Linked DNA regions of Homo sapiens: region 2 is linked to region 1. Evidence: fine-mapped expression QTL. Tissue or cell type: T cells. Region 1 holds a variant in brackets; the other region holds the start of a gene. All regions are shown on one strand. Distances are between the middles of the regions.

Region 1 (6,866 bases):
GCCCGCACCCGGCCTGTATTTTTTTGTTTGTTTGTTTTTTTTCAGTAGAGATGGGGTTTCACCATGTTATCCAGGCTGGTCTTGAACTCCTGACCTCAGGTGATCTGCCCACCTCGGCCTCCCAAAGTGCTGGGATTACAGGCGTGAGCCACCGTACCTGACCCCAACTTTTTTTTTTAATCAAGTGAGTGAGAAGAGGATTCATCTTTTCTTCAAGCCTCAGAAGTCCAGGTGATGATTCTGGTTAGAAAGAGCTGTCCGTGGTCGGGTGCGGTGGCTCACGCCTGTAATCCCAGCACTTGGGGAGGCCGAGGCAGGTGGATCATGAGGTCAGGAGTTCAAGACCAGCCTGGCCAAGAAGGTGAAACCCCGTCTCTCCTAAAAATATGAAAAGTAGCCAGGCGTGGTGGCGGGCACCTGTAATCCCAGCTTCTGGGGAGGCTGAGGGAGATAATTGCTTGAGCTCAGGAAGCGGAGTTTGCAGTGAGCCGAGATCGCGCCACTGCATTCCAACCTGGGTGACAGAGCGAGACTCTGTCTCAAAAAAAAAAAAAAGAAAGAAAGAAAAAAAAAAAGAAAGAAAGAGCTGTCCGGAGTTAAATTCAGACCAGAGGCTGGGCGCGGTGTCTCGTGCCTGTAATCCCAGCAACTTGGGAGGCCGAGGCGGGCGGATCACAAGGTCAGGGGATCGAGACCATCCTGGCTAACACAGGGAAACCCCGTCTCTACTAAAAATACAAAAAATTAGCCGGGCGTGGTGGCTGGTGCCTGTAGTCCCAGCTACTCGGGAGGCTGAGGTAGGAGAATGGCATGAACCCAGGAGGCAGAGCTTGCAGTGAGCCGAGATCGCGCCACTGCACTCCAGCCTGGGCGACAGAGCAAGACCCCGTCTCAAAAACAAACAAACAAACAAAAAAAAAACCAAAAAAACACACAAAAACAAATCCAGACCAGCAGTGATTTTCCCTAAAATGAGAATCCTGAGATAGGAGCTTCCGTACTCATCACAATTGGAGTCAACTTTCACGCAGACCTCAAGGTGTCCAAGTACTTTCCATATAAGTGTTGCTGCTAAAAATAAAATAATAATAATACAAACTCCAGGCCTCTTGGATTCTAAAAATGGGAGTTGTGTATCTCTTTTTTCTCCAAATTTAGCCTGGCCTCTCATGCTTGAGTTGTCTACAGCAGCTTCCATGAGTTCCCAGTGTGGTTGAAATCATAAATATGCCTTCTCTTTCATTTCCCTTTTTCACATCCCCAAACCCACGTGGTGGTTCAGCTGGGGAGCTATATTTCCTTGGGGAGGAAAGTAGCACAGTGGGTGTCATACCCAGGGGAGATTAACTTTCGGGTCCTGTAGTTGCCCCTACCAGGGTGAGAACCTGGTGCTCATAGAAACCTGCTCAGAAAATCGCTTTCTTGCTTTTGTTCCTTCCTCCACACAATGGCCACAGTTACTGGTGGAGACAAAATGTCTGGAGTGGACTGGAGTCCAAGAAAAGGTACATCGGGCATTTCCTCGCCTAGGAAGTCACTGGCACAGAAGTTCAGAAATGAGCGAGATTTTGAAAACAAGAATAGGCCGGGTGCGGTGTCTCACGCCTGGAATCCCAGCACTTTGGGAGGCCGAGGCAGGCACATCCTCTGAGGTCAGGAGTTCAAGACCAGCCTGGTCAACATGGGAAAACCCTGTCTCTACCAAAAATAAAAAAAAATTAGCCGGGCGTGATGGTGCAGGGCTGTAATCCCAGCTACTCTAGAGGCTGAGATGGCAGATCTCTTGAACCCTGGAGGTGGAGGCTGCAGTGAGCCGAGATCGCGCCACTGCACTCCAGCCTGGTAGACAGAGCAAGACTCCGTCTCAAATAAATAAATAAATAAATAAATAATTAAAACATAAAAAAATAAAAATTTTCTCGGGGAGCTGACTATGAGAAGGCAGAAATATGTTAATATCTCCAGGTGTCTGTCTGGGGTGTGGTGGGTGGGAAAAAGGCGGAAGTGGTTTCCTGTAATGAATTTGCTCTGTAGGAAGGAGCCATGTTTTTTGGCGCTGGGGATGTTAACTTAGTCCTGGTCATCAACAACATGAACATCAGGCAGAGATACTTGTGTCTTACTTGGAGGAAGATTCAGACCCGGAGAAGGATTTTGATCAGGGAAGAGTCAGCTACAGATAAGGTTGGGGCTATGAGAATAATAGATGTCAGCCTGGAGTGAGGGTTTGGAGAAGAGGACCAGGAGGAGGCTGATGTGGTGGCACAGACAGGCTGTCTTCAGTCTCCAGTGAGCTTGCACTGTGGGAATGGACCCGGGGACGTGGGTGAGGAGGGCTCAAGGGTACAACTGCTTGGATTTGTTCACTGTATGTGAAACAAAAGTGAGTGAGCAACTAGGGTCTGTTTCACTCTCTGCCTTAGTTTACTGGAGGAACGAATGGTGTCATCCCAGGATGAATGATCCCGGGGAAGAACCAGGCTAGGGAGATATTTATAAGGCTGTTCACGGAGTGCAGAGGAAGCACTGTCTCCCTCCTGGCCCTGCTGTCTAGTTTTGTTTCTCCCAAGCACTTCTTCCCTCCGACTTTCTTAATTCTATAAGTAGCAGCACCAGAACGCGATCATGTCTGTTGCAGAGATGTGAATGGAGCTGGAGGTCATTATCCTTAGTAAACAAACACAGGAACAGAAAACCAAATACCACATGTTCTCACTTATAAGTGGGAACTCCATCAAATCTCCAAGTCATTTACAACCTCTTCTTCCCCTGTCCATAACTCTTCATTTGATACCGTGAATTCTGTCTCCATGCTTTGGGCCAAAGCATTCACTGGAAGAAATTCCCAAGCTTTGGTTTAAGGCATGAGGGTTCATACTTACTGTCAGTTGACCTTCAGCAGGTGACATCCTCCCCTGCCCCATCCATTTTCCTCGTTGTAGGAAGATGGTAATTAACCCTCCCGTCAAGTTTTTTTGTTTTGTTTTTTG[T/G]TTTTTTTTTTCCTGACAGCGTCTCATGCTGTCACCCAGGCTGGAGTGCAATGGCACGATCTCTGCTCACTGCAACCTTGACTTCTTGGGTTCAAGCGATTCTCCTGCCTCAGCCTCCTGGGTAGCTGGGATTACAGGCATGCACCACTGCCAAGCGTGTCCATGTGAAGAGACCAGCAAACAGGCTTTGTATGAGCAATAAAGCTTTTAATTCACCTGGGTGCAGGTGGACTGAGTCTGAGAAAGGAGTCAGCGAAGGGAGATGGGGAAGGGGTTGCTTTATAGGAGTTGGGTAGGTGATGGAAAATTACGGTAAAAGGTGGTCATCTATTGTTGGCAGAGGAGGAGGTCACAAGGTACCTGGTGGGGACATCGTAAGACTTATTATCCAGAAGAAGAATGTCACAAAGTTGATTGATCGGTTAAGGTGGGGCAGGGACAAGTCACAATGGTGGAATGTCGTAATGTTGGTTAATCAGTTAAGGCAGGAACTGGCTGTTTTACTTCTTTTGTGGTTTTTCGGCTGCCCCAGACTTCTTGGCTCCTTCAGGCCATCTGGGTGTATATGTGCAGGTCACAGGGGTTACAATAGCTGAGCTTCAGCTCAGAGGCCTGACAACCACCACACTGGCCAATTTTCTTTTTTTTTAAATTTTTAGTAGAGACAGGGTTTCACCATGTTGGCCAGGCTGGTCTTGGACTCCTGACTTCAGGTGATCTGCTCGCCTTGGCCTCCCAAAGTGCTGGGATTACAGGCGTGAGCCACCATGCCTGACCTAAACCTTTAAAAGTGGATACTTGTGTGAGAGAGAGAAACCATGCAGAAGAGATTAAATAAAATTAGACGGATATAATTGTGTCTTGTTTCTTGTTTTGGTTTAGAAATATAAGTGTATTTTCTTGAATAGATATGATGCAAAAATATTTTTAAATATAACTCATAAACTTAAAGATAAAACCTAAAGAAAAAGAAAATGCGGTAAAACAGGTGGGAGGGGAAGCAGGAAAGGCAGGCACACTCGTGTAACTATGATTGAAAGAAAATCTGTATACAAGTGGACCTGCACAGTTCAAACCTGTGGAGTTCAAAGCTCAACTGTATGTTACTGCAAATGATTATAAGTGCTGTTATAGAAACATTCAAAGACCAGAAAAGGACCACAATGGCTGACCACACATAGCCAGGAAGAGCTTCTCCCACCGAGAGACCAGGCCATCAAGAAGACCAGAATGCTCTGGGCAGATCTTCTGAAAGAGGGCGCTGAGGGTGGATGGAGAGAGGACACAGATCCTGAGGATGGATGGAGGGAGGACACAGATCCTGAGGATGCATGGAGGGAGGACACAGATCCTGAGGATGGATGGAGGGAGGAAACAGATCCTGAGGGTGGATGGATGGATGGAGGACACAGATCCTGAGGGTGGATGGATGGAGGGAGGACACAGATCCTGAGGGTGGATGGAGGGAGGACACAGATCCTGAGGATGGATGAAGGGAGGACACAGATCCTGAGGGTGGATGGAGGGAGGACACAGATCCTGAGGATGCGTGGAGGGAGGACACAGATCCTGAGGATGGATGGAGGGAGGACGTAGATCCTGAGGGTGGATGGAGGGAGGACGCAGATCCTGAGGGTGGATGGATGGAGGACGCAGATCCTGAGGATGGATGGAGGGAGGATGCAGATCCTGAGGGTGGACGGATGGAGGGAGGACACAGATCCTGAGGATGGATGGAGGGAGGACACAGATCCTGAGGATGGATGGAGGGAGGACGCAGATCCTGAGGATGGATGGAGGGAGGACGCAGATCCTGAGGGTGGATGGAGGGAGGACGCAGATCCTGAGGATGGATGGAGGGAGGACGCAGATCCTGAGGATGGATGGAGGGAGGACACAGATCCTGAGGATGCATGGAGGGAGGACACAGATCCTGAGGGTGGATGGAGGGAGGACACAGATCCTGAGGATGGATGGAGGGAGGACACAGATCCTGAGGATGCATGGAGGGAGCACACAGACCCTGAGGGTGGATGGATGGAGGACGCAGATCCTGAGGATGGATGGAGGGAGGACACAGATCCTGAGGATGCATGGAGGGAGGACACCACGCCCGGCTAATTTTTGTCTTTTTAATAGAGATGGGGTTTCACCATGTTGGCCAGGCTGGTCTCAAACTCCTGACCTCGTGATCCGCCCGCCTCAGTCTCCCAAAGTGCTGGGATTACAGGCGTGAGCCACCGCGCCTGGCCGGCTTTCTTAGTCATGTTTAATTTAACGAAAATTTTATAATGATCTGAAATGTAAATGGTTTTTAAAGAATTCAAATTAGGATTCATCAAAAATAGGACTGTCTTTATTGTTGAAAAACATTGTATTTCTTTAATAATGAACAACTTATTAAGTTATGATGTGATTTAACTGGTATGAAAATTTGGGAAATTAGAATCTTGGTAAAGTACAGATTAGTTAAAAGAAAAAGATGCTTTAGAAAAATCAAAGACATTTCCGAAAGAATGTACAATAATCAATAGCAGTTTGGCCCCAGTGTTATAGAGGATGGGGAGAAGGTGGAAGAATGAGAAAATAACACGCATTTCACGTAGTATATGTGCACAAATCTTTTTCTTTTGTTGCGAAGAAAATGTTTTATCACAACAAATGTAATAAATTTAGCAACTTTGTTCTGGAGATCAATCAATAAATCCAAATAGGAGAAGGAGGAGGGGTCTGTAAAAGCAGAAAGCAATTTCAGAAATGAATATATATAGTGTACTAAATAAATTGAGCTGGATGGTAAATAAAGGCAACAAGAAAATATCTGTGAATCCTAGACCAGCTGTGATGATGGCTCTGTATGCCCTTAAATAACGGCAATAATTCATGAAAAAATAAAGACCTTGTCCTTTCTTTATCAAAGTGATTTATTATTTATTTATTTATTTATTTATTTATTTATTTATTTTTTAGAGACAGAGTCTCGCTCTGTCACACCCAGGCTGGAGTGCAGTGGCTCGATCTCAGCTCACTGCAAGCTCCACTTCCTGGGTTCACGCCATTCTCCTGCCTCAGCCTCCCGAGTAGCTGGGACTACAGGCACCTGCCACCACGCCCGGCTAATTTTTTTGTATTCTTAGTATAGACGGGGTTTCACCGTGTTAGCCAGGATGGTCTCGATCTCCTGACCTCGTGATCCGCCCGCCTCAGCCTGCCAAAGTGCTGGGATTACAGGCGTGAGCCACTGCGCCCGGCCCAAAGTGATTTTTATGGAGGTACAATTTAGGACTAAATGAGGCACATTTTACTTCTTGGAACGGCAACAGGAAAATTCCCATCCCGCAGCTCTCACAACTCAGATCTTAGCAATTGGAACAGAACAGGTTGTCACTGCTGAAGGACCAAGCAGAACAACGGTTTCAGGAAGCTTTAGCTCTAAATCCCAGTAGATGTAGAGCAGGTGCAGAGCTCTGGGGACTCTCAAAGCACTTTTAACTCTGGTTAAGTGTCAGAATTGCATTTAGACATCAACACATTTATATTCCTTGATTCTTTCTTCTCCCTAAGCCTTAAACATATAGTCACCTTTTATCAAAAAGATATTTTATTTGTCTAAATGGAAGATATAGTTTACTTTCTTCACACAGATGCCAGAAATTTTCTATGAACGTAAAATCTTTGGTGCAATCAAGTGCATACTGCTTCCCAGATCCTACAAGAAAGGAGATTAAGGTGTAGAATTTTACACTCATCACAGAAAGTTTTCAGAGACTAACTGGCATCACCAACCAAAACACAACATGCTATCACCACAACTATTTTTAAATGTCTTAAGTAGTAGTTTCCATTGGACAGCAGGTGTGTAAGCAGGAGCCAAGA
Region 2 (8,303 bases), 100 kb after region 1:
GGAACCGTCCGTTAAAACAAGACACCACTGGCCGGGCGCGGGGGCTCACACCTGTAATCCCAGCACTTTGGAAGGCCAAGGCAGGTGGATCACGAGGTCAAGAGATCGAGATCATCCTGGCCAACATGGTGAAACCCCGTTTCTACTAAAAATACAAAAATTAGCTGGGCGTGGTGGCGCACGCCTGTAGTCCCAGCTACTCGGGAGGCTGAGGCAGGAGAATCGCTTGAACCCAGGAGGCGGAGGTTGCAGTGAGCCGAGACCATGCCACTGCACTCTAGCCTGGAAGACAGAGTGAGACTCTGTCTCAAAAAAACAAAAAAAAAACAAGACACCACTACATACCTATTAGAATGCCAAATCCAAAATGCTGGCACCACCAAATGCTGGCAGAAATGTGGAGCAACAGAAACCCTTCTTCATTGGTGCTGGCAATGCAGAATGGTACAGCTACTTTGGAGGACAGTGTGGTGGTCTCTCATAATCCTAAACATACTCTTAGAATATGAACCAGCAACACTGCTCCCCAGTATTTACACAGATGGGTTGAAAACTTCTGCCCACAAAGAAATCTGCACGTGCACGTTTATGGCAGCTTTCTTTATCACTGCCAAAAACTTGGAAGGAACCAAGATATCCTTCAATAAATGTCTTACTACATTCTGGTTGTTGTAACAAAATACCATACACTGCGTAGCTGAGGCAGGAGGATCACTTGAGCCTGGGAGGTTGAAGCTGCTGTGGGCTGAGACAGAGATCACATCATTGCACTCCAGCCTGGGTGACAGAATGAGAAACCCTGTCTCAAAAAAAAAAAAAAAGTACAGTTTTGGTTTTTGCTGTGACTGGGCTCCTGGAGTGAGAGCTCTGGATCCCAGCTGCAAGATGAGGAATCTGGAGCCGAGAGAAGGGAAACGAGTTTTCCAAGTCATACGGCTGGTTAAGTAAAAGAGCCGGGATTATGACTTAGGTTTCCTGCCCCCCAAGATTATTATTTTTTGAAACAGAGTTTCGCTCTGTCTCCCAGGCTGGAGTGCAATGGCATGATCTGGGCTCACTGCAACCTCCACCCCCAGGGTTCTAGCGATTCTCCTGCCTCAGCCTCATGAGTAACTGGGATTACAGGCATGCGCCACCATGCCCGGCTAATTTTTCTGTATTTTTAGTAGAGACGGGGTTTCGCCATGTTGGCCAGGCTGGTCTTGAACTCCTGACCTCAGGTGATCCACACGCCTCGGCCTCCCAAAGTGCTAGGATCACACGCATGAGCCACCGCGCCTGGCCTACCCAAGATTATTAAAATAAGTTTTCAGAAGCAACCCCCTACTGGCCAGGCGCAGTGGCTCATGCCTGTAATCCCGGCACTTTGGGAGGCAGAGGCGGGCGGGTCACCTGAGGTCCGGAATTCCAGATACTGTGAAACCCTGTCTTCACTAAAAATACAAAAATTAGCTGGGTGTGGTGGTGCACGCCTGTAAAGAGAATTGCTTGAACCTGGGAGGCAAAGGTTGCAGTGAGCTGAGATCGTGCTACTGCACTCCAGCCTGGGCGACAGAGCCGTCTCAAAAAATAATAATAATAATAGATTTTTTAAGAAAAGCAATCCCCTAGTGACTTCTTAGAGCACATCATCAGACAGTTGGGGTAAAATTCTGAAGTGGATTAAGGGAGGGGTGCTGGTTTGCCTGGATGGCTACATGAACATAGCCCTGGAACCAACCAAATATGTAACTGGACAACAGAAAAATAAGTACAGGGTGCATTAATCAGAGGCAACAATGTTTTGTACTTAAGTACACAGAAGACACGATGTGAAGACACCAAGAGAACAGTACTTTTCATGGTTAGACACATTTCTTAGGTATTTTTTCTACTTTGGGATTCTTTTGTGATATAATTTGTCCTGTTTACATAATTTTTTTCCCTGACATGTAAGATAAATGTATCTAATTGTGGGCTTACTTGTAAAGAGTTTTCACATTTAAGTTCCAGTCATTTCATTTTATCGCTGTATCTGTGTACAGAATGCTAAAGAATAAGACATAAAAAATAAAAGTACAGTTATAAACACCTCTTTTAAAAGGCAGAGACTGTTCGCTTGGGCAAAAAAAAGCAAGATCCAACTACATGCTATCTACAAGAAACCCACCCTAAATACAACAGGTAAAAGGAAGCTAAATGGAACGTGGGTCCTGGCTTGTACCCTGGCATGTAAAGAAAACATTGGAGGAAAAGGTGGTGAAATCCCAGTAAAGTCTGGGTTTTAGTTACAGTAATGCATCATGTCAGTATCTACAACAAACCACTTTTGTTGGTGCTTGTGATGACAGCATCAGAAGAAAGTGGGCATAAAACATGGTGGACTGCTTATGATCTTTGCAACTTTTCTTTTTTTTTTTTTTGAGACAAGAATTTCACTCTTGTTGCCCAGGCTGGAGTGCAATGGTGTAACCTCGGCTCACTGCAACCTTGGCCTCCTGGGTTCAAGCGATTCTCCTGCCTCAGCCTCCCGAGTAGCCGGGATTACAGGTGCACGCGCCACCACGCCCAGCTAATTTCTGTATTTTTAGTAGAGACGGGACTTCACCATGTTGGCCAGGCTGATCTTGAACTCCTGACCCCAGGTGATCCACCCATCTCGGCCTCCCAAAGTGTTGGGATTACAGGCGTGAGCCAGCGCGCCCGGTCTTTGCAACGTTTTGAATAAATCCAAAATTATTCCAGAACAAAAAGCTTAGTACCAAAAAGAAAACAAAAACAAAAACAAAACAAACCCCCCCCCCCCCACAGAGTAAAATAACGGAAAAAGATCTACTATGCTAGCACTAACAAAATAATACGTAGTTATGAAAATGGTATGTATTTTTCAAGCTAGACGTTCATAATGGTAGAACATGAGGAGGAAAACTGCCTCTTAAATCCCACCACTTACTGTGACACAGTGACCGGTCCCTGCAGCGGACTGGATAGTTGTATCAGAGTCCTGGACGGAAACAGATGGCACTCAAAAGGTGGCGCGCAGTTCAGAGAAATGCCTATGTACGGATTTGGTCCAATGCCTCAGCCTGACCTCAGGGACCTTCGGGGGTCTGCTCCGCGCCCACCCTTACACATCTGTGACCCCACACACTTCCACCCCAGCGCCACTGCCAACAGCTACACCCATCCCCCTCCAACCGCGTCAGCTTCCAGCCTCGGTCCATCTGAACTCGCCGTGCCCCCTCCCCTGCGCCCTTCCAGATTCATTTGCTAGGGAAGCCCGCTCTTCCGGGTGGAGCTGTTCCTCATCCCCTTTCTTTATCATTCTCTCCCCAGGGCTTCCACATCACCGTGCTGTGGACAATCCCGGAACTCCTGTCACGCCAGTTTACATTTAGGAACAGTAATGGCTCCCACTGACTCAGTCAAAACAAGGCTGCGGCCGGGCACGGTGGCTCACGCCCGTAATCCCAGCACTTTGGGAAGCCGAGACGGAGGGATCACGAGGTCAGGAGTTCGAGAACAGCCTGGCCGACATGGTGAAACCCCGTCTTTACTAAAAACACAAAAATTAGCCGGGCATAGTGGCGCGCGCCTGTAATCCCAGCTACTCCGGAGGCTGAGGCAGAATTGTTTGAACCCAGGAGGCGGAGGTTGCAGTGAGCAGAGATCACGCCACTGTACTCTATCGTGGGCGACGACAGAGCAAGAGCAAGACTCCGTCTCCGAGAACAACAACAACAGCAACAAGAAAACAACAATAAAAAAAATAAGGCTGCGTGGGAGGCAGAAAGAGCTAATGCGGCCACGCTTGTCTCCTCGGGGCCACCGTCCCCACCCAGACTTCCGGTCTGCCTTAAAATGTTCATGCGTAAGTGCGTGGGCAGGAAGGCGGGCTCAAGCGCAGCTCGTGGCGTTCATTGGCTGTGCAGGGCCGAGGGAGGCGGTGCAAGGCCGCCGCGTGACGTCAGGACGCCGCGGTCAGGACGTCGAAGCCAAAGAAGACCAGAGCCAGCCGGGTGGCACAGCGGTGTCGTGGCCGTGTTGCTGATCGCCTGGGTGGTTGTTGGCGTGTCCCTGCAGCGAAGGATCCTGGTTGGTAAGGGGAGCGGCAGGCGAGCAGGCGGGCGGGGATAGCATCTCCTTTTGGTCTTGCGCCCCGCGAGCCCCGAGGCCTTCTCGGCCGTCGCAGCAGCAGACGCCGCGCGCGAGCGTCGACAGGGTGTGGCGGCGCAGGGGCAGCCACTGCGCCTGCGCACCGGGCCTGGGGCCGCGCGTTCGGGCACTAGCGCGCGTGCGCCGTCGTCTTCTAATTTCCGTTCCTCTCCCTTGGAGTTCTCGGGGCCCCGGGGCGCCCCTCACTCGCCGTTGACCGGGTGTTGCCCCGGGCGACGGGCGGCTCCTGCGCGTCTTTCTGGGGCGTGGTGCGCAGGCGCGGCCTGGGCAGTGGCTCCGTGGCTAGTCGTGGGGATCCGAGCGGCCTCCTCCACCCGGCGTCCTCCTTTGCCTTCGCCCAGCCTGCGGGACGGCCAGGTGCTCCCGGGACCTCAGGCCTCGCGTCTGATGCCTGTCTCTGTTCTTGAGACCCGTCCGGGAGTCCTCTGTCCAGCCCCCAACTCCTGACCTTACCTCTAATCTCCCTTCTGCCCTGGGGCTCCTCTTCCTGTGTCCCCGCCACGATCCCTCGTCTCCACCCACGCCCTGTGTCCTGTTTAAGTTAAGCCTTTGCGTTTCTAGGGCTTTTCCCCAGCTCCAGACTCCCGTTCCTATCCCGTCAACTCGTGGGAATTCCGGTTCTCCTGCGGGATTAATTATCCTACTTATCAGTTACTCCCTCTCGGGAGTTTAGGCTCCTGAATCCTTGCTCCGGAGACACTCCACTTTTCTTCCAATTCTCTCTGTACCCCACTCTTAATTCGTTGAACATGTTTTGGGTCTTCTTTGGCATTCCCAAAGCTTTATGTCCAGACACCCAACCACGGTGATCCCTTTTCTCTCCCAGCCCTACCCCTGCTTCCGGGAACCTCCCGTGGAAGCAGGCAGGGGTAGTCCCACTGAGGACTCCCACGTAGGTCTCTTTACTGCCCTTCGGAGACCTTTTTGAAATCAGTCTGTCAGTGCTAAGAACCCATTTCTTCACGTTGGGGTTCACGTTGGCATTCTCAGGAACGCTCAACGACCACTTGCTTCCAGGGTTAACTTCCGGAAAATCCCCTTTTCCTCTCAAAATTTTCTTCTCTTCTCCAATATTCTTCCAGCCCCCTCGATGCTCCCTGAAAGGCCTCCCTTTTCACAGAGTTCTCGGAAACCTTTCCACCCTCTCAGCCTTAAGGGTTCCCTCAGACTCTTCTCATTATAGCATCCATCCTCTTGGTTCAGGTTCCTTTCACAACCCGTACTCCCTAGCTTTTTTTTTTTTTTTTTTTTTGAGACAGAGTTTCGCTCTTGTTGCCCAGGCTGGAGAGCAATGGCGCAGTCTCAGCTTACCGCCCTCCGCCTCCCGTGTTCAAGCGATTCTCCTGCCTCGGCCTCCCTAGTAGCTGGGATTACAGGCATATGCCACCATGCCCAGCTAATTTGGTATTTTTAGTAGAGACGTGGTTACTCCATGTTGGTTAGGCTGGTCTCGAACTCCCGACCTCAGGTGACCTGCCCGCCTTGGCCTCTCAAAGTGCTGGGATTACAGGCGTGAGCCACCGCGCCTGGCCCCTAGAATTTTTTGTAGACCTTTTCCCCTTGATGGAGGCACCCCTACCCTCTGGACCTTTCATCACAGCCTCTCTTTGCTCACATGGGTTTCAGACCCTTCTCCTTCCCTTTGGGAAGTCTGCTCTGGCTTCCCTGTTTCCAAATCCTTCGTTTTCCACCTGGAGCTCTACAAAGGGGCCAGGGGCTTCCCCTCACTCCAGCCTTTCTAGTCCACACCCAGAACTCTTCAGATCCTTGACCCCAGTGGCTTTTCAGTCAGCCTCCCCTTTTCTGCCCGGCTTCTCTTGAGTCCATCTACTTTTCTTCCCCACTTTGTGACGTGTTTTTAGCTCCCCCTTAAGTCTCCCTAACTCATTCTTTTTCTCATAGACAGTGAAAAAGCAGTCTGGCTCCCGAGGTCCACCCCTTATACCCCAAGGTCCAGATGGCGGCCAACGTGGGTGATCAACGTAGCACAGATTGGTTAGTGAGGCGAGAGGGATGGAGGCCAGTCGGGAGGGAAAGAGGAAGCAAGACCCAGTGCTGTCCTCTGGGGTGGGACCTCCCGTGGCCTTAGGGGAGGTGATGCCACAATCCCTGTGGGTGGGGGTGGTGGTGAGGCAAACACAGAGGGAAGCATTTGGTTGTGGTGTGGAGAGGGGCAAGCTTTCACCTCTCTGAGCTTTCGTTTTTCACAGTACAGCGCTTGCTTTGCAGAATTGTGATGATTCATTCAAGCAAGTGTAATTAGGAGGCAGCTTCCCAACACTCAATACACAGTCATTTATTTGTTTTTCTGCTGATTCCTTATTTTTTCTCAAAATAGTGTGATAACCTGCCGACTGGGGTGATGTCAGACAGAATTCATTGATTCATGAAAGACATAGCCCTAGGAGGTGCCAAGGCCTGTGTTCAGTTCTGTGGGTTCTGTTAATTGTTTTGTTTGTTTGGTTTTAACAACTGCTGTGTGCCAGGCTCTGGGATAAGTACCTTAAGTAGGTGATCTCATTTATCCCTCCCAGCAGACTCTGAAGCAGAAACCCTTTATCAGCATAGTACAGATTAGAAAACTTAGGCTTAGACTGGTAGTAACAGTTAGATATGGGATCCAGGGGCTGGAATTTGCCTCCCAACTTGCCCACCTGTGTACAGTGGGGAGAACAGGTGTGACTTGATGTCCTCTCTCTCTGCAGGTCTTCTCAGTACAGCATGGTGGCTGGGGCAGGCCGAGAGAATGGCATGGAGACGCCGATGCACGAGAACCCGGAGTGGGAGAAGGCCCGTCAGGCCCTGGCCAGCATCAGCAAGTCAGGAGCTGCCGGCGGCTCTGCCAAGTCCAGCAGCAATGGGCCTGTGGCCAGTGCACAGGTGAGAAGGCCTCATGGGGCTGGGGTACCCTGAGCCAGAGGTTGTGGGAGGGACACAGTCTGGCGTCCTGTTGTATCATTCAGACGGGGTGCTCTGAGGGGAAACATGAAAAGACGTTCCAGGGTATCTAAATCTGAACGGGAAAAAGTTCTGTTTCCTTGAGGAAATTAGGGCGTGATGTGGTTCTGAAGAGGGAGGCCATGCCCATGCCCCTGGTCTCTAACGTGCGTGAGTCTCATGGTAGAGACAGTGGCTCACTTTGCAGATACATGGACCCAGTTTCATCCCTTGGCAATTGGCCACCAGTAAACAGGCTTGCCCTTTGGGGGCCGTGTGCCTGTGGATTTGGGCTGCTGACGGCACATGTGCCTCTGCTTCCACAGTACGTGTCCCAGGCAGAAGCCTCAGCTTTGCAGCAGCAGCAGTACTACCAGTGGTACCAGCAGTACAACTATGCCTACCCCTACAGCTACTACTATCCCATGGTGAGTGCCCAGCCAGTGGGGCGGGGCAGGGCGAGGTGGAGTCTGCTGGGTCGGGGCGAGGTGAAGTGGAGTCTGCCGGGATGGGGCTGGGTGGTGGATGGACTGGAGATCGCAGTGATAACTGCTCAGAAACCCTCTAACTTGCCCAGGAGGTAAATTCCTAGGTCCCCGCCATGAGCCACAAGGTCCTACATACCCGGTTCTGGTCCCTTCTCTCCTCATGCTCATTCTGCCATGGCCATCGAAGCAGAGACCTCCTTGATGCCCGCACCCGCCAGGCCCGCTCTCGCTTTGCCCTGGCTGCAGTGCTCCCTGTGTTGCCGCCTCTTGGAGGTCTCTGCTCAGATGCCGCCTTCAGAGAGCCTCTACCTGACACACTGATTGAAAGTAGCATTCCTGCCTCGCAGCCTGTCCCTCTCCCTTTCTTTGCCATCTTATTGTTTCATGATCCTTATTGCTGGATGTATTACATGTTGATGTCTCCAGCCGGACATGTAATTCCAGCACAAGCTTCATTACAGCATGGGTTTTCCTTTTGTTCTGTCGTAGTGCTTAGAAGAGTTGGCACTCAGTATCGTTGATTATATTCTTCCGAGAACTAGCTAAGTGAGATGTGGGATTGATAGAGGTTTTTCTTTTCCTAATATATGAGAGGATGTGGTGCATTAATATAGTGAAGAGAGAAAGGGGTGAGGGATTGGTAGAGGGTCATGGCTGGTGTAGTTCCTGAGCAGGCTGGGGAAGCGGAAAGGGTAGGCCTCCCACTAAACCCTCCCTCCCTGC

The links. PIP is the estimated chance that this variant, and not a neighbour inherited with it, causes the effect.
Region 2: it holds the start of LENG8, and the variant in region 1 is fine-mapped to the expression of LENG8 in T cells (TOPMed, PIP 0.96).

The regions. Positions count from the first base shown.
Region 1 is chr19:54,344,811-54,351,676 of GRCh38, forward strand. It overlaps LAIR1 (leukocyte associated immunoglobulin like receptor 1), which reads right to left. Exons shown (of 10, transcript NM_002287.6): 10 at 6,574-6,866. Among named protein-coding and RNA genes, the nearest start is that of LILRA4, 9.1 kb to the left of the region's middle. The variant T/G (reference allele first, on the strand shown) is at 2,991.
Region 2 is chr19:54,445,233-54,453,535 of GRCh38, forward strand. LENG8 (leukocyte receptor cluster member 8) reads left to right here and starts at 3,967. Exons shown (of 16, transcript NM_052925.4): 1 at 3,967-4,078; 2 at 6,058-6,150; 3 at 6,861-7,035; 4 at 7,419-7,520. The coding sequence starts at 6,113. LENG8-AS1 (LENG8 antisense RNA 1) reads right to left here and starts at 3,806. Exons shown (of 3, transcript NR_126418.1): 1 at 3,330-3,806; 2 at 2,933-2,983. RefSeq lists an enhancer at 3,717-4,624.